Linked DNA regions of Homo sapiens. The protein of the gene in region 2 binds, or shares a complex with, the protein of the main gene of each other region. Each region holds a gene or a part of one and is shown on either strand. Other genes may lie near its edges.

The links. The genes of interacting proteins can lie anywhere in the genome.
Region 1: the proteins of MAPK8 (region 2) and DUSP16 are in contact, whole or in part, in a crystal structure (PDB 4YR8), measured with the Homo sapiens proteins. Residues at the interface, in NP_001310257.1 of Homo sapiens: Arg189, Val196, Ile197, Leu198, Gly199, Asp229, Ile231, Trp234, Gln253, Thr255, Val256, Thr258, Tyr259, Val260, Asn262, Arg263; in NP_085143.1 of Homo sapiens: Phe215, Leu267, Asp268, Tyr271, Lys275, Pro279, Ile281, Ser282, Pro283, Asn284, Phe285, Asn286, Leu288, Gly289, Gln290, Leu292, Asp293.
Region 3: the proteins of MAPK8 (region 2) and MAPK8IP1 are in contact, whole or in part, in a crystal structure (PDB 3VUM), measured with the Homo sapiens proteins. Residues at the interface, in NP_001310257.1 of Homo sapiens: Lys83, Asp112, Ala113, Gln117, Val118, Met121, Leu123, Glu126, Arg127, Tyr130, Tyr133, Val159, Lys160, Ser161, Asp162, His286, Val323, Trp324, Asp326, Glu329; in NP_005447.1 of Homo sapiens: Arg157, Pro158, Lys159, Arg160, Pro161, Thr162, Thr163, Leu164, Asn165, Leu166.

The regions. Positions count from the first base shown.
Region 1 is NC_000012.12:12,559,860-12,567,020, reverse strand, and holds the start of DUSP16 (dual specificity protein phosphatase 16), read left to right. Parts: upstream 1-4,157; 5' UTR 4,158-4,904; intron 4,905-5,905; exon of another isoform or gene 5,906-6,021; intron 6,022-7,161. UniProt on the Homo sapiens protein: Dual specificity protein phosphatase involved in the inactivation of MAP kinases. Dephosphorylates MAPK10 bound to ARRB2.
Region 2 is NC_000010.11:48,309,671-48,316,690, forward strand, and holds part of MAPK8 (mitogen-activated protein kinase 8), read left to right. Parts: intron 1-7,020. UniProt on the Homo sapiens protein: Serine/threonine-protein kinase involved in various processes such as cell proliferation, differentiation, migration, transformation and programmed cell death.
Region 3 is NC_000011.10:45,881,043-45,888,654, reverse strand, and holds the start of MAPK8IP1 (C-Jun-amino-terminal kinase-interacting protein 1), read right to left. Parts: upstream 3,005-7,612; 5' UTR 2,835-3,004; coding exon 2,734-2,834; intron 1-2,733. UniProt on the Homo sapiens protein: The JNK-interacting protein (JIP) group of scaffold proteins selectively mediates JNK signaling by aggregating specific components of the MAPK cascade to form a functional JNK signaling module. Required for JNK activation in response to excitotoxic stress.

The DNA.
Region 1 (7,161 bases), on a different chromosome or scaffold from region 2:
TTAGATTTATATGTAAATATTTCACGTTCTTTGGAGCAATTGTAAAATGGTTCTGTTTTTAATTTCTGTTTCCACATTTTTTATTATTATTTTTTATTTTTTATTATTTTTTTTTTATTGATCATTCTTGGGTGTTTCTCGCAGAGGGGGATTTGGCAGGGTCACAGGACAATAGTGGAGGGAAGGTCAGCAGATAAACAAGTGAACAAAGGTCTCTGGTTTTCCTAGGCAGAGGACCCCGCGGCCTTCCGCAGTGTCTGTGTCACTGGGTACTTGAGATTAAGGAGTGGTGATGACTCTTAACGAGCATGCTGCCTTCAAGCATCTGTTTAACAAAGCACATCTTGCACCGCCCTTAATCCATTTAACCCTGAGTGGACACAGCACATGTTTCAGAGAGCACAGGGTTGGGGGTAAGGTCACAGATCAACAGGATCCCAAGGCAGAAGAATTTTTCTTAGTACAGAACAAAATGAAAAGTCTCCCATGTCTACTTCTTTCTACACAGACACGGCAACCATCTGATTTCTCAATCTTTTCCCCACCTTCCCCCCCTTTCCATTCCACAAAACCGCCATTGTCATCATGGCCCGTTCTCAATGAGCTGTTGGGTACACCTCCCAGACGGGGTGGTGGCCAGGCAGAGGGGCTCCTCACTTCCCAGTAGGGGCGGCCGGGCAGAGGCGCCCCTCACCTCCCGGACGGGGCGGCTGGCCAGGCGTGGGGCTGACCCCCCCACCTCCCTCCCAGACAGGGCGGCTGGCCTGGCGGGGGCTGAGCCCCACCTCCTTCCCGGACTGGGTGGCTGCCGGGCGGAGACGCTCCTCACTTCCCAGACGGGGTGGCTGCCGGGCGGAGGGGCTCCTCACTTCGCAGACGGGGCGGCTGCCGGGCGGAGGGTCTCCTCCCTTCTCAGACGGGGTGGCTGGGCAGAGACGCTCCTCACCTCCCAGACGGGGCGGCGGGGCAGAGGCGCTCCCCACATCTCAGACGATGGGCGGCCGGGCAGAGACGCTCCTCACTTCCTAGATGGGATGGCAGCCGGGAAGAGGCGCTCCTCACTTCCTAGATGGGATGGCGGCCGGGCAGAGACGCTCCTCACTTCCAGATGGGGCAGCCAGGCAGAGGGGCTCCTCACGTCCCAGACGATGGGCAGCCAGGCAGAGACGCTCCTCACTTCCCAGATGGGGTGGCGGCCGGGCAGAGGCTGCACTCTCAGCACTTTGGGAGGCCAAGGCAGGCGGCTGGGAGGTGGAGGTTGTAGCGAGCCGAGATCACGCCACTGCACTCCAGCCTGGGCACCATTGAGCACTGAGTGAACCAGACTCAGTCTGCAATCCCGGCACCTCAGGAGGCCGAGGCTGGCGGATCACTCACGGTTAGGAGCTGGAGACCAGCCCGGCCAACACAGCGAAACCCCGTCTCCACCAAAAAAATACGAAAACCAGTCAGGCGTGGCGGTGCGTGCCTGCAATCGCAGGCACTCAGCAGGCTAAGGCAGGAGAATCAGGCAGGGAGGTTGCAGTGAGCCGAGATGGCAGCAGTATAGTCCAGCTTCGGCTCGGCATCAGAGGGAGATCGTGGAAAGAGAGGGAGCGGGAGCGGGAGCGGGAGAGGGAGAGGGCTGTTTCCACATATTTATTGTTAGTATGTAGAAAACCTTTCTTAGTAAAAGAAAGAAATGTACTCTTCGGTGAAGTAAACTTGTTTAGTGGTTTCCCCTTCACCTGCTGGGCAGGTAACAATCTATTTATTCTAACATTCAAGTACCTCCACAATGTGCCTCTGTATCTCTTAAATTTAACCTCATACCTAATTGCTAAATACCGATTTCTACTGCTACTGGGTTTACTCTTCTGTCACTTGAATACACCTTACTCATTATTCATTCCACCTCCATGTCTTGGCTCATTGCCATTTGCCCTCTGGAATCTTCCCTCCACTGGCTTCTTCACTGCAAACTAAATCTGAACTGTCCTTCAAGGATAAGGTCAAAACTCTTTATAAGGTGCCTTCCCTGATAATCCCAGCCTACATTGCTCCTTTTCTCCCCTGATGTTTTTTTTTGTTTGTTTGTTTTTTTTTTTTTTTTTGAGATGGAGTCTCACTCTGTTGCCAGGCTGGAGTCTGGAGTGCAGTGGTGCGATCTCGGCTCATTGCAACCTCCACCTCCCGGGTTCAAGTGATTCTTCTGCCTCAGCCTCCTGAGTAGCTGGGACTACAGGCGCCCACCACCACGCCTGGCTAATTTTTGTATTTTTAGTAGAGACGGGGTTTCACCATGTTGGCCAGGATGGTCTCGATCTCTTGACCTCATGATCCACCCGCCTCGGGCCTCCCAAAGTGCTGGGATTATAGGCTTAAGCCACCACGCCCGGCCCCCTGACTCTTTTAACCAATATTGTACATCACTCAATCATTGATTTCGTTTTTAATGAGCTTTAATATACGTCTTGTTTCCAGAAATAGATGAAATACCCTGAGAGACTTCTATGATAGCTATGATGGCACCACATCATACATTACACAAACTTAATTGTGTAACTGAGGAAAGGGGAGAAACGTTTCAAGCCATGTCAGTTAAAGCAAGGTTACTGGAACTTTGGCATGCAAAGGGGATACCATTAATTCTCATGAATCTTTCCTCCAGGCAAGATCCATGCTCTGTACCACTAGTAAAAGGACTATCTTCTTCTTCCTTCCTAAAAATCCCAACACCTCCAACAAAGGTCTACAGTTAGATTTTTAGGGGTTTCCTGGTAGAGCACAAATAATCCCAAGGAAGCTGCAGTAACACCTCCTGGCCACCAGAGGACAGGGAGCAGTGGGAGAGATTTGCTTCCCCTAGCAAAGTCTTCAAGAGGCCAGAGGCACAGGCTCAAAGTTGCTTCTCCATCTGTGGCCTTCAGGCTTTACCTACTACTGCCAGAGGTGCTAGGGTGCCTCCCATCTTCAAATGGGCTTTTTTTTTCCCTCCTATAAAAGATGGGCCAGAAGTTCCCAGGGCCATACCCCGCAACACTAACCTTCAATGATTACCAATCATAAGGAATGCCTTTAGTTGCAGGACTTAAAGGCAGAAAAGTAGTAACAGGGGTGTATTATCTTTCGAACCCACCCAAACCTGCTTATCAGTTCTTTTGCTAGTGGAAAAACGTGCTTTAGGCAGGGTGCACATGGATATCCCACAGCAAACAGTGCCTTTAGGGTCTAGTGTCCCAATCCGGCACATTGTAAATGGAATATTTGAAGAGTTAGATTATTCCTACACATAAATTCTGGCTCATGGAGCAGTCCACTCGCAGGGTGCTTTTCCGTCATTAATCACATCTTTGTTATGTGATATCCACGTGAGTACTTCTCAGTAGAAGCAGCTTCATGCTCAAATGCTCAAAGAACATTGGAATAAAGCTCCGATTGTCCTATTCAGTGATTCCAAGTCCTGGTTTGTCACCACCTCAGGTCTCTCGTTTTCCAAAGTGCATAATGTCATCTCAAAACAGACATTTTAATGAATTCAAATAATAAAATGCACGAGGTATGTGGAGTTAAATCAACAAGGGTTTTGTACCTCTCAAGAGGCGGTTAACCCCTGGTCTTATTTAAAGATGTTTCTGCGCTGCCTCCTGTAGAAAACATTTTTAAAGAAAATGTAGGCTGCTTATCCTTGTATTTGTAAATATAAGCAAAGTAAAGTAATGTAGGAACATTTATGTGGGGGCTTTCAACCATAAACATATAGATAGCTGAATGCCTGACAACAGTAGTGTGATTTTTCTTGAAGTACCTGTAACTTCTCTCCTGAGAGATGGCAGAGCCTTGCCTTTTGCATTCGCCAGACTTTTTACAGAGCGAGTGTAATTCTCTCAAATCAGTGTTTGCGTTTTTTGACGTTGGTGAGGCAGCTGGAAACAGCTCAAGGAGGAGGGAAAGGTTCTGCGTCTGGGTGAGGGAGAAAACCCTCCGATACCTGTTGGGGCGCAGCACTGGAGGCGGACACCCCGGCCCGGGGGTCGGGGCCGCGAGCCCGGGGGTAGGGGGCGGGCGCGCGGGCGCGGGAGGAGGAGGAGGAGGAGGGAGAGGTGGGGGAGGAGGCCGCGGGGCCGCCTCCTCCGGCAGCTCCGGCTCCTCCCAGCGGCGCCCGCGGAACCTGCCTCAGAGTCGCCGGACTCTGGAAGGGAACATGACCTGACCCCTCCCCGAGCGGCCGGAACGAGGCGCGGAGCCGCGCTCCGGGCTCGGGCGGCCGCGGGATGGGCGAGCGCGCGGCCCCGCCCGGCGCCCACCGCCCTGCCCTCGCCTGTCTCCTCCTTTCCCCGGGGCTCCGCTGAGTTCATTCACTGGGATTGGTTTCAAGTGACGCCATCTCTTTATTTTTAAACCAATGACCTCATCCGCGCTTGAAGTTTCCTGACCAGCGACTCTTTCTCTTTCCCCCAACCCCCCACCCCACCCCCCCGCCTTTCCCCCTCTTTCTATGTATCAGTGTTTGGGGGGCTTTAATCAGTTTTTAAACGATTATTACCACCTCTCTCTCCCCCCCAACCCCCACTTTCACAACGCGGCCCCCCACCTTTACCTCCCTAAGTTCTTCATCTCTTTCGACATTTTTTTTGAAGGCTGATGGGGGGGAGGGTGGAAGAGAAAGAGTGAAGAAAAGTTGCGAGCGTCTCCTCTCTTCCTAAGCCTCCCGCCCCAACCCACCCCTCAGAGAAGGAGAAGATAATATACTGAAAAGAAGAGGAGGAGGAGAGCGACGGGACGGGACGCGAGCGGGAGCGCAGCCGCCCTCTCGGCTCCGCGGCGGCGCCTCGCAAGTCCGGGAGGCGAGGGGGGCCCGAGGGGAGACGCCGTGACAACTTTCGTTTCCCTCTGAGGGAATTGGGAGGTCGGCGGCCCCAAAAGTAAGTGGCCTTGGCGGGCCGCGCGGGGTGTGCGGGCGGGAGGGTGCGGGGCCCGGGGCGCCCTCCCGCCCGGCCGCATGGACGCTCCGCAGCGCGCCCCGACTCCCGGTGCCGGGCGCCGCGCTCCAGCCCCGCCGTCTCTGCCTTCCCGGGCGTACCGGCCACCCTTTCGGGAGGCGGCGTGGGGGCGACCGCGGCCGGGGGCCGCAGGAGCGTTTGAAGCGGGGGTGTAGGCCTGGCCGGAGGCTGGCCGGAGCGGGAAGGGGGCGTGCGGCCGGGCGCGGGGTCGCAGTGGGTGCGCTCCCGGCCGCTGCGCGGCGCTTGGACCGGGCCCCGCCGAGAGGAGCGGCCGCCGCGGGACGCGGCACCTTTGCGGGCGAAGCTGCTCACTTCCAGGCGCGACTGTTACACAACACGCCTGCCAAGTGGGGCCCTGGCCTGACTGTTCCCATTATCCCCAGTTCGCCTTTGGTGTAAGCAGCGAGGCCACCTGGGTGGTGACGGTGCTGCTTTCTTCAACCAACCAACCGAAAAAGCCCTCAATTTTCGGACAGGGGCTCGGGTCTTGGCGTTGGGGGGCCCGACGCCTAGTGACTTCTTTATTTACACTAGCTGCAAAACGTGAGAAATAAAAAAGCCCAGGGTCTGTGTATCACGTGTAGTTTCATGTAATGAAACACCACAGAGGGAAATATTTTCAGATGCTGGGTTTATTTCCTAAAGAATACCAATAATGAACCAGAGAAAAGGCAAGTAGATCTGAAAATGAATGGATACTGCAAAATCCTAAAGAAGTTTAGGAAACATCAACTGCAAGGATTCTTGGCGTTTTGAAGTCGTGGGTGTCTCAGATTGGAGAAAGCACACCTCTAACCAGCCTGTGATGAATAAGCTGGGGAGGAAAAAAACCTGTTGCATAATCTCATTTGCCGTGGGGTTTGCTGTGCCATCCCCTTGAACCAAAGGGAAGTGAGTTAAGATGCAGGGTTTTAAAACTCTCTGAAGTTTTTATTTACCCAGCGCTCTGGCTCCCACTTCTGTTTTAAAAGATTATAAGTAAATACTCTGCTCTTTCAAGTGAACCAAACCTATCAAACCTGTTTAGAAAATAAACCAGGTATGTTTCTTTCTCTTCTTTCTTTTCCGCCTCTGTGTGTGTGTGTGTGTGTGAAATTTACCATCCATGCAAAAGTTTAGGACTAGTGTTTGGGGAACTGAGACTGTCAGAAAAATGCCTCTTTATGCCACTCACCTTATGGGGCTGATGGAGAGTCCACGTAAAGGATAACCGTTTCCTCAAAGGATTTATGCTGTTTCACCTCCATCAAGAAAAGGGCTTTTTAAAGTTAAGGTAAAATTTTAAAAGAAAAGATTTCGTACCAATTGAATTAATTACTCTTTAATACCTACTTTTCCTTGAGTATCACATATATTGGTGGATACCACTTGGGAGGCTCGTGGAGTCTATTTGGTGAAGGCAGCAGCTTGGAGAAGTAAAATGAAAAGCAGAATGTATGGCTCTGTGTAGGGATTTTAGTAAAAATGTGAGTAGGCACGGTGAAAGGTTTTTGTTTTTTAAAATTGTGGAATTTACTGAGTTTGAAGACAATGTGGAAAGTTGCATTAAAATTTTTTTTAATTTGGCTAACATTTACAGTCTTATGTAAAAATATAGGCTAAATAACACCAGCCCAAGAGTTGGATTTTAGGTAAAATAATTTTTGCACTTATCAAAATTCTACATGGGGGAAAAATTAGAAATGAATTTATTTTGAATTTTGTTAGTGTGAATAGTGTTTTGAAAATAACTCGGTTCAAGTACTATAAATGTACATTCAGATAAAAAATGTAAACTGTGGTAATTAATTTTTTTTTTCTTTTTTAGTATTAACCTCTGCTATATCAGCAACTCAAAGTACAATATCTCATTTGGCTTGATTATAGTGCCAAATGATCATAGTGCATGATTATGGAGGGGGCTAGGAACAGAACTGCAGAATTATCCAGTTTTGCTCCTTTTTCAATTTAGAATGCCCTATCCTTTCGTTCAGTTTGGTGATTGTAAGTGTGTACCTATAAAATAAAAATAGACATGTAAAATTGGGGATTGGAGTCTTTGGGCCAAAAGCTTAATGGCAGTAACTGAGAAGGCAGTAAAAGAGGAGACACTGTTACCCCGGTTCTTTTCCTTTTTCCTACACGTTTAAAAATTATTTGTGGGACAGTTGAGAGTGGAAGTGAGGCTGAGATGGGAGGG
Region 2 (7,020 bases):
GTGCTAAGAGGTTGTTGAATAGGAGCCTGCTTCTTGTTGGTCTGCTTTGCCAGCGGGTTGAATTTTGACATATTTCAGTCATCTACATGGTTGAGATGCTTTGTTGCACGAGTGGAAATACAAAATAATGTCTGACATTAGGATTCCAGTGCTCTAGAGGTCTCTGGTCAAGTCAATGGTATGGGTAGTAGCTTTTCTGATTCATGTGGTCCAAGGAAGTCATTATAACCACATAGCTTTATATATGAATCATTTGCCTATGTCAGTGAACTGTGATGCTGATTGTCTTAATCATGAGCTCTTTACCTGAACATTTAGAAGCCTTGCATTCTTACTCTTAATGCAGGTTAAGTTGAACTTTGATTTCAGAAGTGAGTTGACTGAAAGGTAACAGGAGTATTGAAATGAGTTATCCTGTCATTCAGGTCAATAGGTGGAGCTAGAGCAATCCAGGAATCAGACCTAGGTTCATTTCTCAGTTCTGCCATCTGGACTTTGTCATCAAATTCTGGAGCTTTAGGCAAGTGCCTTAATGTTTTTGGCTTTAAAAGTATAAACTGAGGCTGTCAGAACTTTTTTTTATAGAAGGCTTGTTCCTCAGATAGGTGGTTCTTGAGAAAACATACTAGGACAAAAAGAGCCCTTCTTGGGTGATAATCAGAAGCCTAAGTTAAGAACAGTAGTCAAAGTTAGGATTTTGTAATTTTGTAATTTTCAGAAGCCAAAAAAATTGTTGAGTTGAATTTTTTCTTTAATATCCAGACTTAGAAAACAAATGGAAGGCTTCACCATAAGCTAGAGATTCTTGGAAAGGTAGGCTTTTATTTATTCCACAGCATCATGCCTTCTAATGAGACCGTATGCTCCCAGAGACTTTGTGGAAGACATAAAATGAGTTCATTATCCTCAGGAAGCTTATAATCAAGGATTAGACTGAAGGCATCGCTAAACAGTTAATTTATGCTCTTTTAAAAGGTATATGAAAGGGTTCCCGCCAAACAAAAGCCCACTTCACATCTCTGTGCAGGCCAAATTTCACTGAAATCCAGTTTTTAAAATTGTGTGTGTGTGTGTGTGTGTGTGTATGTGTGTATACGTATGTGCATGGAGAGAGACAGAGAGGAGACCCCTTTTTGGAAAACTTAGTAGCTTCCATTCTTTTTCTTGGAGGTGGGTTATATCACAAATACAAGAGATACCTGTGTTTCCTGTTACCCTTTATTATATTTCAGATTTAGTTAAAATCTGCCATTCTTTAGAAAGTCAAGGAACTCAAACCTTACAATGATTGCTAGCGTGGGTTTTAAGGTCAGCCCTGAGTTCTAATCGTGCTCCAATCTAACTGTGGTATAGGCTAGTTCAGGTTATATAACATATTTGGGCCTGTTTTATTATCTGTCAAATGAGAATAATAATAGCACGTAACCTCATAGGGCTGTGAGGTTTAAATTAGGTACTGCATGTAAAGTGCCTGGCACTGTTGTGGTGGCTGGAATGCTAGATACAAGTATTCAGGTAGTTTTTGCTATTGTTATCACTTATATTTAACTTTGAACAAACATAAAATGCCAAGTAAACGTCAAACCAGTTTAATGCACAGTGTCCATTCTAATTCTCCAGAATATGCCATTTGTTTCACTCTGCATCTCTGGGGGGTTTATTTAAAATTCGATCATCTCATGTAATCTGAATTGACTGAGATGATTTATATTAACATTTGGACCAGTAATCCTCTCTATCTTAAAATTTGGAAATGTTCCAGAAGCAAATATTGAAGGGAACATATTTGCCACTTTCACGATTTTTTGCCTTTTCCCACAGGAGAAAATTGCCTAAGCTTTCCTAGGTTTGTTATAGACATCTAAAGGAATGAGAATTTAGGAGCTACGAATAGCTTTATCATGTGACACATTTGAAGAAAATGGAATGCTGTCACATCTTTTAAATTTAGTGTTATTGGGATCTTCGATTCTGTGAAGATTGCAGATTTGTCAGAGACCTGGTAACCACAACAATTCATTGAGGCCTGGAGGCCTCTTAAAAAATGAGGGAGATTATTTATTAGTACCACTTAGAAATATTATCTTTTCTGTATTTTCTGTGGTTTTCTAAGTCTTCTGTTTAGCGTTTCTATGATTATAATGGTGGATTAAATTTCTTGTTCCTTCTCAAGAGCATCTACTATGAGATGACACTGGTTTTTACTTCGGCAGTATTTACTGAGCATTGCACTATACTAATCCAGGTATTCGGTGATGTAGGAACCAAAGGAAATAGAAGTCAGTTTCTACCCTCAGTGAGCTGAGTATAATTTGATAGAAGATAAGGATTAACGTAAGCACATTTATGTCCTAACACAAGGAAGCAAATATTGTTAGTCATTTCATTAGGAATTTCTTTTGTCATTGGGGCATTTGGGGCCTTCCAAACCTTACATCTCTTGCCATGCCTTTGTACTCACTCGATAAACCTGAGAAAGCAAGATATCTTCTTTTCTGATTCCTGGTTTAAGTTGAGAGTGTGGTGCACATTAGTCAAAATCCAAATCATAAGAAAAGGCAAACCTTATGAATTCATTTTGGAATACAACAGGGTATCAAAATAAGTATATGAGAAATATGAAAAGCTGACAGTAGAAAAGATGCTACTCAGGTACTAACCAGAGTTCTCAATCTCCTCTGTATTGAAGCTCTTATGATGTAAGGCTGGATCTGTACTAGAAACACTTTTTAAAGTCTCTCTCCAGTATTGAGAAGTATAGTCCTCCAGTACTGCCTCTTGGTGCTGAGAGACTCAAGCCTGCCACCCACCATATTTCTGGGGAAACTAGAAACGAAAAATAGCCACACACAAGCACTTGCTTTGCTTGGCAGGAAACATCAAAACCATAAGATGTTATTTCCTAAAAGTCATTAATTGGGTAGAAAAATCACCATTTTCTGACTTGTTCCAGGAAGGATGGCTTTCTGATTTTCAGATGCCATTGGGTCAACCAAAGGTAAGATAAAGAAAAGCTACTGCTGTGTGGATTTTTCTGTGACTTGAGAAAGCGTCACTTTTCAGTTAAACAAAAACCAAAGCATCTAGCTTTGGCTGTTACTATTGAGAATTTAAAAGTCTTAATGTTTTAATTTGTTTACATTTTATATTTTGACTAAGTAGTAATGAATTCACTTTGACTCAAAATTCCAAAGATTTAAAAAGATAAAGAATCTCCTTTTCTACTCTGTGTAGCCACCTAGTTCTTCTGCCTGGAAACTGTTAAAATTCCTGTGAATACTTCCAAAGATAGTTTATATATGTTTAAGTATATAATCCTTTGTTCAAAATCCTTGGTCCAGATGTATTTTAGAATGAAGGCTTTTTTTGCAGTTGTGGAAAGATAATGTAGCACATCTACCGTGTTATCCAAAATCCCTAGTAAGAGGTTGTAGCCTCATGATTAAACACATTAACATTTCTGTAAAAAATACAGACATAGGCCAGGCGCGGTGGCTCACGCCTGTAATCTGAGCACTTTGGGAGGCCGAGGCGGGCGGATCACCTGAGGTCAGGAGTTTGAGACCAGCTTGGCCAACATAGTGATACCCCGTCTATACTAAAAATACAAAAATTAGCTGGGCGTGGTAGCGTACGCCTGTAATCCCAGCTACTTGGGAGGTTGAGGCAGGAGAATCTCTTGAATCTAGGAGGCGGAGGTTGCAGTGAGCTGAGATCGTGCCACTACACTCCAGCCTGGGCGGCAGAGGTGTAGACTCTGTCTCAAAAAACAACAACAACAACAACACCCAGAAATAATCAAAGACATTAATATTTTTATAAAAGCATAACAAATACAAGTAGGGTGAATAAAGATTATAAAATCTTATGCTACGTCTCGTCAGGTTTTACCACCAAATACGTTTGTACTAAACTTATTTTAAAAACGTATTTTTCACAGCTTTATGGATTTTGGCTTTGCCAATGAAGGATAGGTGTCATACATATATACAGTACTGTATAGCCTCTGCTCTGCTCCCTCCCTTTTTATTTAATGTAAGTTGTTGCATGCAATATGTATCACCTTTTGCTTTTTTGTTTTTTGCTTGTTGGTTTGTTTTTTGAGACGGAGTCTCACTCTTGTTGCCCAGGCTGGAGTGCAGTGGCACAATCTCAGCTCACTGCCACCTCTGCCTCCGAGGTTCAGGTGATTCTCCTGCCTCAGCCTCCTGAGTAGCTGGGATTACAGGTGATCCACCTGCCTTGGCCTCCAAAGTGCTGGGATTACGGGTGTGAGCCACCGCACGTGGCCTGCTTTTTGTTTTAATATAGCTGAGAGATTATTTTATATCAGTCATATCAGTATGTAAATGGCATGCTTTTTTAACATCTTTGTGGTATTCCATTTGTCTTACTCTGTTTGGGCTGCTATATCAAAATACCATAACTTGAGTGGTTTAAACAACAGAAATTTATTTCTCACAGTTCTGGAGGTCGGGAAGTTCAAGATTAGGCTACTTAGTCAATTTGGTTCCCTGGTGAGGGTCCTTTTCCTGGCTTTATAGGTGGCCGGCTTCTGGATGTATCCTCACATGGCCCCTAAGAGCTCTAGTCTGTTCCTCATCCTATCATGGGGGCTCCACCCTCATGACCTAATATAGTCATGAGAGGCTTAGTTAACTCCTAAAGGTCTCTCCTCCAGATACTATCAAGTTAGAGGGTAGGCCTTCAACATATGAATTTGGAGGGACACAGACAGTCCATAACATCATTATACTGGTATACCATTTAACTCCTTTCTGATGCATATTTAGGTAGTTTTCAGACTTTTGCTATCAAAAGCCATGGTGCAGTGGATTACCTTGTGCATACGTCGTGTTGCACTTAAATGCATAGGATAAATTTCCAGAGGTAGAGTTCCTAGGCCAGCGTATGTGCATTTGTAATTTTATGTATTGCTGAAGTGTAGCCTGTAGAGGTTGTCCAACTTCCATTCCACCAGCACTGTGTAAGGATGCCTGCTTCTTATTACCCTTAGACGTCTTTCATCTTTTAAGGGCTGTTTGTGTTTTCTTTCTTTTGAACTGTCCTTGTCTTTGCATGTTTTTCTATTGCTTTGTTGCTCATTTTCCTAGATTTGTAGGATTAATTTTACAAATTGGCTCCATGCTATTTTTTGGAAATGTTTTTCCCCAATTTGCTGTTTTCCATTCTATGGTAGGCTATTATGTATGGTTCCAACTTTATTTTCTTCACCAGATATCCATCCATTTGTCCCTACACCATTTATTAAATAATCCATCTTTGTCTTAACTGATTTAAAATGCCACCTTTACCATTTACAAAATTTCCACGTGTATTTGGTACCATTGTTTCCATTGACCCATCTGCCTGTTTGGGACCTGAGCCATCCTGTTTTTATTATTGTAGTTTATGCTGTGTTTTCTGCTAGGTCTAATTCCCTTTTATTTCTCTTCCTTTTCAGAAGTTTTTTTCTGGCTTCTATCTTGTTTATTTTATATGAACTTCTAAAAACAACCCATCTAGTCTAGTCTGTACCCCTCCTCTGCCAGTCTTTCTGTTGGAATCACTTTTTTTATTTTATTGTGGTAAAATTATGCACAGCTAGATGCACAAGCATTACAGTCCAATAAGTTTGCCTTTGTATACACTTGTGCAATCCCAGATCAAAATACAGAACACTTCCATCACCCAGAACCTTTTCTTACATCCTTTTCAAGTTACCTTGCTCCCCAGTGATTGGCTTCTATTAAATGGATTCAGTGTACTGTTAGGATTTCTTTGTATTTATAGAATAAGTGACAGCTTTATGATGTACCTTTATATCCAAGAATAGGAAAAACAACCTTTTCATTTGTTGAAGTCTCATTTTGAGTTCCTGATAGCATTTTTAAACATTAAAATTTTTTTTTGCTGTTTTATATATTTAAGTTTTTTTTTTTTTGCTGGAAATGGCATCTTTTTTTCCACTTTTATCTTCTATCTGGTTATATATAAGAAAGCTTTTTATTTTGTATATTAGTTAATATTTCATATATTAAATAATAAGCCCCCTGTAGAATATTTATTATTTCTAATAGTTTTGTAGTTGAATTTTTTATTTTTCTTATGTCATGCCAGCTTTTTTGTTTCCTTTGATTTTTACCTCCTCCCTCCCCCAACTTTTTATACTCTTATATTTTTTCTTATTGCATTTATAGTGGTGATTTTAGAAGATTATAGTTTTCCTCCATTATATGTAAAATGAGCCAAAATATCTGTTTATCTGTTGAGTATTTAAATGTTATGAATAATAATGAAATTAGGGAGGGATTATGGGAATACTTAAAGTAGTGTGAAGTTTTCTCTCTAAAGTTAATGTAACTTGAAATGAATTGTGGTTTTCAAAATGTTAAATGGACAAGTTGGGGATCACTTGATAGTGAATGTAGGATTAGCAGTTAACTGCCTTGTGTCTTATTTGATGATACAGTCATGCACCACATGGTGAGGTTTCGGTCCATTACAGACCACATATGTGACAGTGGTCCCATAAAATTATACCATATTTTTACTCTATTTTTTCTATGTTTAGATACACAAATACTTCCCATTGTGTTACAGTTGCCTGCAGTATTCAGTACAGTAACCTGCTGTACAGGTTCGTAGCCTAGGGTCAGTAGGCTACACCATATTATAGCTTAGGTATGTTGTACTATCTAGGTTGGTGTAAGTAGATTCCATGATGTTTGCACAGTGACGAAATTGCCTAATGATGCATTTCTCAGAAGGTATCCCCGTCCTTAAGCAAGGTGTGACTATGTGTATAGGCTGCTTTCTATGTGCTTAGCACCCAGAGGCAGCTCCCGGAAATATAATTTAGTCTGGTGTCAGAGAGCATGCAGTCAAAGTAGAGGTCAAGATATGAGAAGTATGAAGTGAATGAATGTAGACAGGAGGGTCTTAAGCTTGGAAAAATGCAAAAATCAAGTCAGGAAAGCACAGGAGTGAGAGGGTGCAAAGAGTGAGTTTGATTTGGCA
Region 3 (7,612 bases), on a different chromosome or scaffold from region 2:
AAAGGTAACCAACCACTATAAACAGCTGGAGCTATAATCAGAACAAAAATTAACACGTATTTAACCTACCACAAACAAACGAATGCTCCCACCCCTTCAGGTCAGGTCCACATGCTCGCCCCCTCCGCACATGCTCTTCCAATACTCTAGGGCTCTTTCTTTTTGGGGTGGCTCTGACATCAGACTGCCTGCCACTTACAAGCTCTGCCACTTACCTAACCTCCCTCTGCCTCAGTTTCTTCATGCAAGTGTGGATAATAACAACGCTCTGTTGATACAGTTATTGGGAGGAGTAAATACTCTTGCACATAGGAAACTCTTAGAATGGTGCCTGGGCGAACTGAGTGCCTTCCAAATGTCAGCGCTTACCACTGTTATTGAGTAACTATCCCGTGCTGAGCAATGGGGATACCAAAGTTTGGGTACAGACCCCCTTTATTTTCTGGGAGCTGACAGTGGCACTGGGGGTCAAGGCGCCTGTGTGTGTGTGCACACACACAGCCCTGCCTACAGGCGGCTCTCCTCAGCCCTTGAAACACTCAACACGTGTTATCTCATCTGATTCTTAGGACCATCCTGAGCAGGGGCCAGTGCTGGCATCTCAGAGGCTCAGAGGGCTTAAGTGCCCAGTGTCAGGGCACACAGGTAAGAAGGGCCAGCCAGGATTCAAACCCAGGCCAGTTGGATCTATGACTCCACCAAAGAGCCACAAGAAAGCACTATCTACCCACCCAGGGTTAAGTGGAGCCTGGCCAAGCACAGTGAGAGGCGGGCCAGGAGAAAGGGCAGCGGGGGCTTTGGGAGCAGCGGGGCAGGCCGGCAGGGCCTGAGACACTGACGCTTATTATTCCCACGCACTGGCCTTGTCTCCGCAGCCAGGCCACCATGTTCTGGAGTGCTGGCCCACACCTCAGCCTCGTGGCCTACTGCCACCCTTGTCCCACATGCCGCAGAGCTGGCCACACATTCACTGGCTGGTGTCTGCTTCCTCAGCTCCTCTCATTAAAGCATCTATGACACCTGGGGAAGCAGGTCGAGGAAGAAAAGCTGCCCACTGGGCCAGAGGCAGGGCTGGGACGTAGAGTGGACTAAACACGCACAGACCTGGGTCCCAGTGTAGCCTTAGTCTCTGACTCTTTTGTAGTCTCCAGATGAGCCACCCTGCCTTTGTTAATCTCAATCACCTCATCTATAAAATGGGCAGGTCACTACCCTCTCTTGGGGCAGTTATGAGGGTTAAAGGAGGGGCCTTGGGAAGACACTCTGGACAGCAGCGAGCCGTAGTGTTGTCTGCTAGTGTGGGGGCTGACACTTGTTGAACACTGACCTGATGTGCTTTTTCTCCTTTCCAGGCAAGAATCAATATTAATTAGCCCACTTAACAGATGGCACCCAGAGAGGACAAAAACCTGCCTGGGTCATGCAGTTAGAAAGTAGTGGAGCTAGGATTTGAACCCAGGTCCCTCTAAGCCCCATGTGCTTCCACTGCAGAGGCCTCCAGGTGGGGAGGCAGTATTTGCATGGAGGCCTCATGCACCATGCCAGGTGGAGTCTCAGACCTCAGTCTAAGGCATTATCAGAGAGCTGCAGCCCTGGAGCCTTCAGGCCTGGCCTCCTCCATCTGGCCCCCTCTGGTCCTTCCAGCTCAGCTCAGGGCCTCAGGGAAGGTTTCTGAGTTTGATGATGCTATTAGAGATCCCCAGGGGTCTCTGCCCACCTGAGGACCTGGGAGCCAGTGACCCCTTGCTCCCAGGAGGGGCTGGCACCACAGCCCAGCTGGAGCCTGGCTGGGGTGGTGCCCCAGGAGAGGGGAAGGCGCCAGTTCTCGAGATGGGGAAACAATGGGGTATGTCTAAGCCTCCCTCTCTAGGCCGGGAGCAGTGACTTCGGCCTCTTCCTCCCCACCAACTAGGGTTCAGAATTATGGGGGAGGTACATCTATTCCTCCTCCACACAACACTCACCCCTCACTTCTCTGAAATGCATCGGGCCTAACACCAGATTGGGGGGTGGGGGTGGTGGAATAGGAGCTCAGGTCAGGGTTCTGGGTATTTACCCCAGCAGGGATCCCCTCGACACCCTCGCTGGCCCTGGCTACTCCAGAGCCGAGCCGACTTCCCTTCCCGCAGCCGGGCCTAGGATTCCCCTGGTTGAGGCTGAGCCTTCAGCGCCTGCCCTGAGAGACACACCTGCCTAGGTCGGTGCTGCCCAATCCAGAGAGGGGCCCGGCCACGCCAGGCCTGGCAGGTAGGCCCATCTGGCCAGGCAGGGCTCGGGGAGGGGCTCAAACATCCTCCTCCCAGCACCAACAATGTCGTTGCCCCAGGAAACTGCGACCCGCGCCCCTCCAGGCTGTTCCCAGCTCTATTCACAGGCTAAGATGCAGCCTGCCTGCCCGCTCCGGGATCGCAACCCCGACCCCAGACCCTGCCGCAGCCCGGAGGTTGGGGAGAAGGAGGCCTCCGAGCCCCCTCCTCCAATTCCAGCGCAGACCTCCCAGCCTAGGACCAGGAATGGCGGAGGGAACAGCCTCGTGAACATGCAACGGCTACCAGTCCGGACTTGAGGCTGGCGGGGCTTCTGAGGGGGGCTCTGTCCCGGGAAGAGACCCCACTCCCACGCAGCCCTTTCGTTCCCGGGTTCCCGAGGTTCTGGGGTGGGGGGCGGGCAGGGCAGCCAATGCGGATCAGTCCCCGCTGAAGGGCGAGGCGCGCGGCGGCCGGGGACTCTCACCTGAAATTGGGAGGCGAAGCGATGTGCAGCCCCAGGAACGGGGAGGCGGCGGGCGGGGACGCGGCCCCCCCTCCCAGGCCGCCGCTTTCTCGCTCCGCCATTCTCGGGCACAGCCCTGGCCATCCGGGCGGAGCGCGGCGCGGAGGAGGCGGCGGCTGCGAAGGAGGCGGAGGCGCGGCGAGAGGGCAGCCGCCGCCGCGGAGTTCGGGCTAGGCGGGCGCACCTGTGTCTGGCAGGGCGCGGCACAGCACCGCGCACGGCCCGCGGGACTGGCGAGAGCGCCCCGCGCGCGCCCCCGGGACCCGGCCGGGGTCTCGCGCGCCCCGCCCAGGCCCCGCCCCCACCCCGCCAGCCCCGCCCCCGGAGATGGCGCTCTCCGCGGTGCTGAAGCCACGGCCCCCGCGGCCCTGGGCTTGGTTCAGCCCCGCCCTAAATCCGACATCGACTCTCCTCCACCCCGTGGCCGGTGTGGGCTTTGTCCCTCCGGTTGGGCTTAGTGCCCGGGTATCAGATGACTAATGGCAGGACACTGGACCCCAAGGTCCAGGTTGGCCCCCCGCAGCAGAGACCAAGAAGGCAGGCGGAAAAGGAGGGTCGTGGAGGAAGGCAGAGAAAGGAGAGGATGTCAGTGGGCTCTTAAAGTGTACAGGTTTGGAGTCAGGTGGTGTGAATTCACTGGCTCCACAAGTGACTGGGCAGTGGGGCCTTGCATTAGTGACTTCAGAGCACTAAGGTTTGGTCTTCTTATCTGTGAAATGGGACAATAGCAGTCCCTCTCATGGTTGTTGTGAGAATGTAACGTAACACAAATGTGTTGCCTGAGACCCAGAAACACTCCACCTCCTGCGCTGGGATCCAGCCCTCACCCCAGTCCTGTCCCTTTACCTTGAGGGGACCCTCCCAAAGACTCTCCCTAGAGGCTGTCTTCTCTAAAGATTGACCCAAATCTCTCTTCAGCCCCAAACAGCTACTCGTGGTGAATTGAGCCCTCCAGGCTTCTCGGTCTCTCGCCAGGACCTTCCCAGCATTCTCCTTCTTAGCGCCTCAACTGCATTTCCTGCAGAGCACCCCTCTTCTGCACCCACAGACACACATTCTAAGACTTGGCGCCTTTCCCTCTCCTCCCACTGTTGACTTCTTGGGATCATTTTGGTTGTTTCTGTTCCCTCTGGCACCTCCATCCCTGCTAGGCTTTGGCCATGGCTTCTTCCTCATTGTCTCTCCCTCGAGAGGGTGTTATTCCTGGGCTTCCAGGCCTTCAAGTCCCTGAGTTTCCCGATTGAGTTATTTCAGAGTACGGACTGCCAAGGCTAGGGCCTTAGCTTTGCTGGGTCGTAGAGCCTCTGGTCAAACCTCATTGGCTTCTCTGGTCTCTCGAGAGAACCCTAGAGACCCTGTCCACAGGGCAGAAAACGTGCAGAGCAAACTGTGCCACAACTCGTGGAGTCCTATTTGCAAATCTGGACTGCCGACCAGTCATGCTGGCCCCTTTCCTTCAGTGCGGCACCTAGCAAGGAGCTGGAGGCACCTTCCGTGCAGAAGGCAACCTCCGACCACCAGCCCTGAGAATATCCCAATACCTAGAGCCAAAGGTCATGGCTGCTTCTCTTTTCCCTGTCCCTGGGGCCCAGAGGGGTGGCCACTACTTTCTCAGCTTTCGTGATCAGGCCCCTTTCACTGGGCCCTCACGGTAATCATCTGCTGCCATGGTGCCTGGCTTTTCCTCTCAGGAAAGCAGTCTTGCCATCATGGCTACTAATCGTTCCTTAGAATGTAGACCTGCCTCAGCTAGGGAACATCCTTAGCAGGTCAGGGGTGGATGTAAAGGACAACTCCCTCTTCCAGAACCTTTTGCTCAAGAGCAAAGTTATCTTAGCTCCAAAGACCAACCCAAAGCCATTATTAGAGAGAAGCCAGAAGGGCAAGAAGGAAAGGCAGGCCCAGGTCTTGGTATGAGGGAGGCCAGCAGGAGCTTCAGAGCAGAGCCAAGAATGAGACAAGTTCCCAAGGCAGGTTCCTCCCCTTTTCTCCTTCTTCACTCTGTGCAGGCCAGACTGTGATATTCTTGGGCCTTGCCTGGGCCCCTTCCCAGAAAGTTGGGGTGTGAGCTAATAAAGCTTTCAGTCCAAGGCTAGCATCCCCTAGCATGGAAGCAGGGCACACTGCACAGAGAGGGGCCATTCTCTGGCCAGGAGACAAAGCCAGCATCCAGGCGCCCTAGGCTTGGCTGTGGGCAGATCTCAACCACCTAGTCACAGCCAGAGAGCCTGCATCCCCTCCTCACCACAGGCTGCAGCTTAAGTGGCTGCATTGAATTAAAGGATGGATTGAGGGCGTGGAGCAGGCCCTGCACTGACTGACCCCCAGCCTGGGAGGGGGTTTAAGTGGGCTGCAAGGCTGGGTGGCACTGCAGGATGGCACTTAGGACCCTCACTCTGGGCCAGAGTGCTCTGTACTATTTTGGCCAATTGACCCCCAACTCTTGACCAAGCTCTGGACCAACTCTTGACCAAGCTGCTCCAGTCTGCTCTGGCTGCTCCCCCTTCCTAAGGAGGAATAGGAGGCTCCTGACTCCCACAGAACCAAGATGGGGTGGCCGACAGCTTCATTCAGGCTCAGGCTTACCAAAACCCTGGTTCCCAGGCCTCCCACAAGATTGACGACAGCACAAACTTACTCAAGACAGGTCAGACATTTATAAAACAAGTGAATATTCACAAACAAATTGTGGGAGAAACACACCTTCCCAGCAATAGAAAATCTCTATAAAGTGCATTTTGCCTGCAACCATCTCTTCCCCATGCTGGCCCTTGGGTCAGGATTTGAGGCACTGTTCCGAGGGAGCCCTCAGGGCCACCTGAGCTGGGAGAAGGGAGGCATGAAGCCACCATGGAGCTCCAGGCTACTGGACATACCCTCTCTACCCTGCCCTTCCCTCTTGGCTCCAGGAGTGCACTGCCTGACTCCACTGGCAGGTTGATCTGGGAACGGGCTGACATGCTAGGGATGGTGGAGAAGTAGGCGGAGGTGGTCCTGCCAACCTGTACCTTAGGGAAGAGAGCCAGCAGCAGACAGGCAGGAAAAGGAATCATCCTGCTACCCGAAGGCGCTGCTAGTGAATACTAAATCTGGGCCTCGGCCTTTGGCCTTCCCACTCTCAGATTTGCCCTTCCAGGTTTGCTTGACTCTCTTTCTGGCAGTGGCCCGATTCTCTTTCCTCTCGACTGGGGCTGAGGGAACAGGGAAGCCCCCAACCCAATGCTCTGAATGCACACCATCCCCTGTGCCCTGCTCCCCTCCCACGATGATGGGACATTTCTAGTGAAGGTGACATACGTACAACAGTTGGACTCTAAAGGCAGCTCTCTGGCTGAGAAAACCTGAGGATATCTCAGGAAGAAGCCTGTCAGTGTGATGGACAGCTACAGGAGATGGGTCTGACCCCAGGGTTCTGGTCCAAGGACAGAGGACAGTGAGGGACAGGGCTGGGGCCAAAAGAATTAACAGATCTGAGGCTAGGAAAGGTCACAGGGGAGGTAGAAAGGAAAAGGCCCAAAGGCCAGCTTAATGATACACGTGAGGACAAAAATCCAAACAGGAATCAGCCTCATAGCCACACACACACACACGTACCACACACGCACACACACACACACACTTTGTGGCTCAAGTGCAGGCCACAGGGTGGAAGGAAGACTTGCTTTAGTTGGCCACCGTCGTCCTTTTGCATGACATCTTTCTCAACACAGGCCTTTGGCAGTGGGAAGGAAGAGGTGGGAGGCACAGGCCACTCCTGGAATGCAAGGATTGGCTTCTCTGGGTCAAACCTCCCACCTACTGCTCCTGGAAGGAATGGTGTTCTGGGTGTAATCTCTACTTGGACTTTTGCCAACTGCCCCTGGCAGTCCCCATCCCTGAGTCCCTCTGCCTGAGTCCTTGGAGCTCAGCTACTGGGATAGCTGACATGGCAGTCTGGATGCTGACAAGTCCAGGACAGGCCCTGGAAGCCAACAGAATAAAGACTAGAATGGTTTCCCTGGCTGGGTGTCAGCTGTCCTCACTGGCAGCACTGTGGTGCCTTGGAGTGTGGCCAGAGAAACCAGGGGGCCTTACGCCACTGCAACCTGGTCTCCTCCTGGTAGAGTGAGTCAGTTTGACCCTTGCCCCTTCACAGCTCCTGGGTAGGCTCTGAGGCTGGCTCTTAGCTTCTGGGGAAGGAACAATGACAGCTGGGATTCTCTTTCTAATTTTAGGTTCTAAATCCTGAAAAGGTAGGTGTGCTGTCTTAGGCTCCTATTACAGTACCAGGCATACCCCACACCAGTCAGGTATCTGTGTGTACTTCTGTAGGGTGGTGGAAACTTTTTAGATCTGTCTATGGCCTCATGCTCAGTCCCAGAAGCCCAAGGAAGGGCCTGGGACTGAGCCCAGTAGCAGAGAATTTTAAAATAAGAAACAGAGGCCAGGTGGCTACGTCTGGACAGCATCCATCCACTCCGGCCTGCTCAGCCTCCAGGTCAGAAAGCAGGAACTCAGCAGGGCTCTGGCTGCCTCCAGAATCCCATGCTTTGGACAACAGCCAGAACTGCTGTGCTCCTGCTCCACAGCCTGACGTGAGGAGGGAGGGAAGGAGGTCTAGGGAGGCAGATGCCAGAATCCCAGCTAGGGTCCTACCACTACGTTCTGTTCAGACAAGGCAGCTGGCTTGCAGGAACAGGTCTCAGCTGAAAGTCACTGCCATAACCTCGAGCCTTGTGTCTGGAGGCCGGGAAACAGCACTGGCGTGCTACAGGTACTCCCCCAGCCCAGGCAACATTCAGAATCATGAGTGTCAACAGATGCATGCACACACAAACAGGCACACCACTCCCTCCTCTGC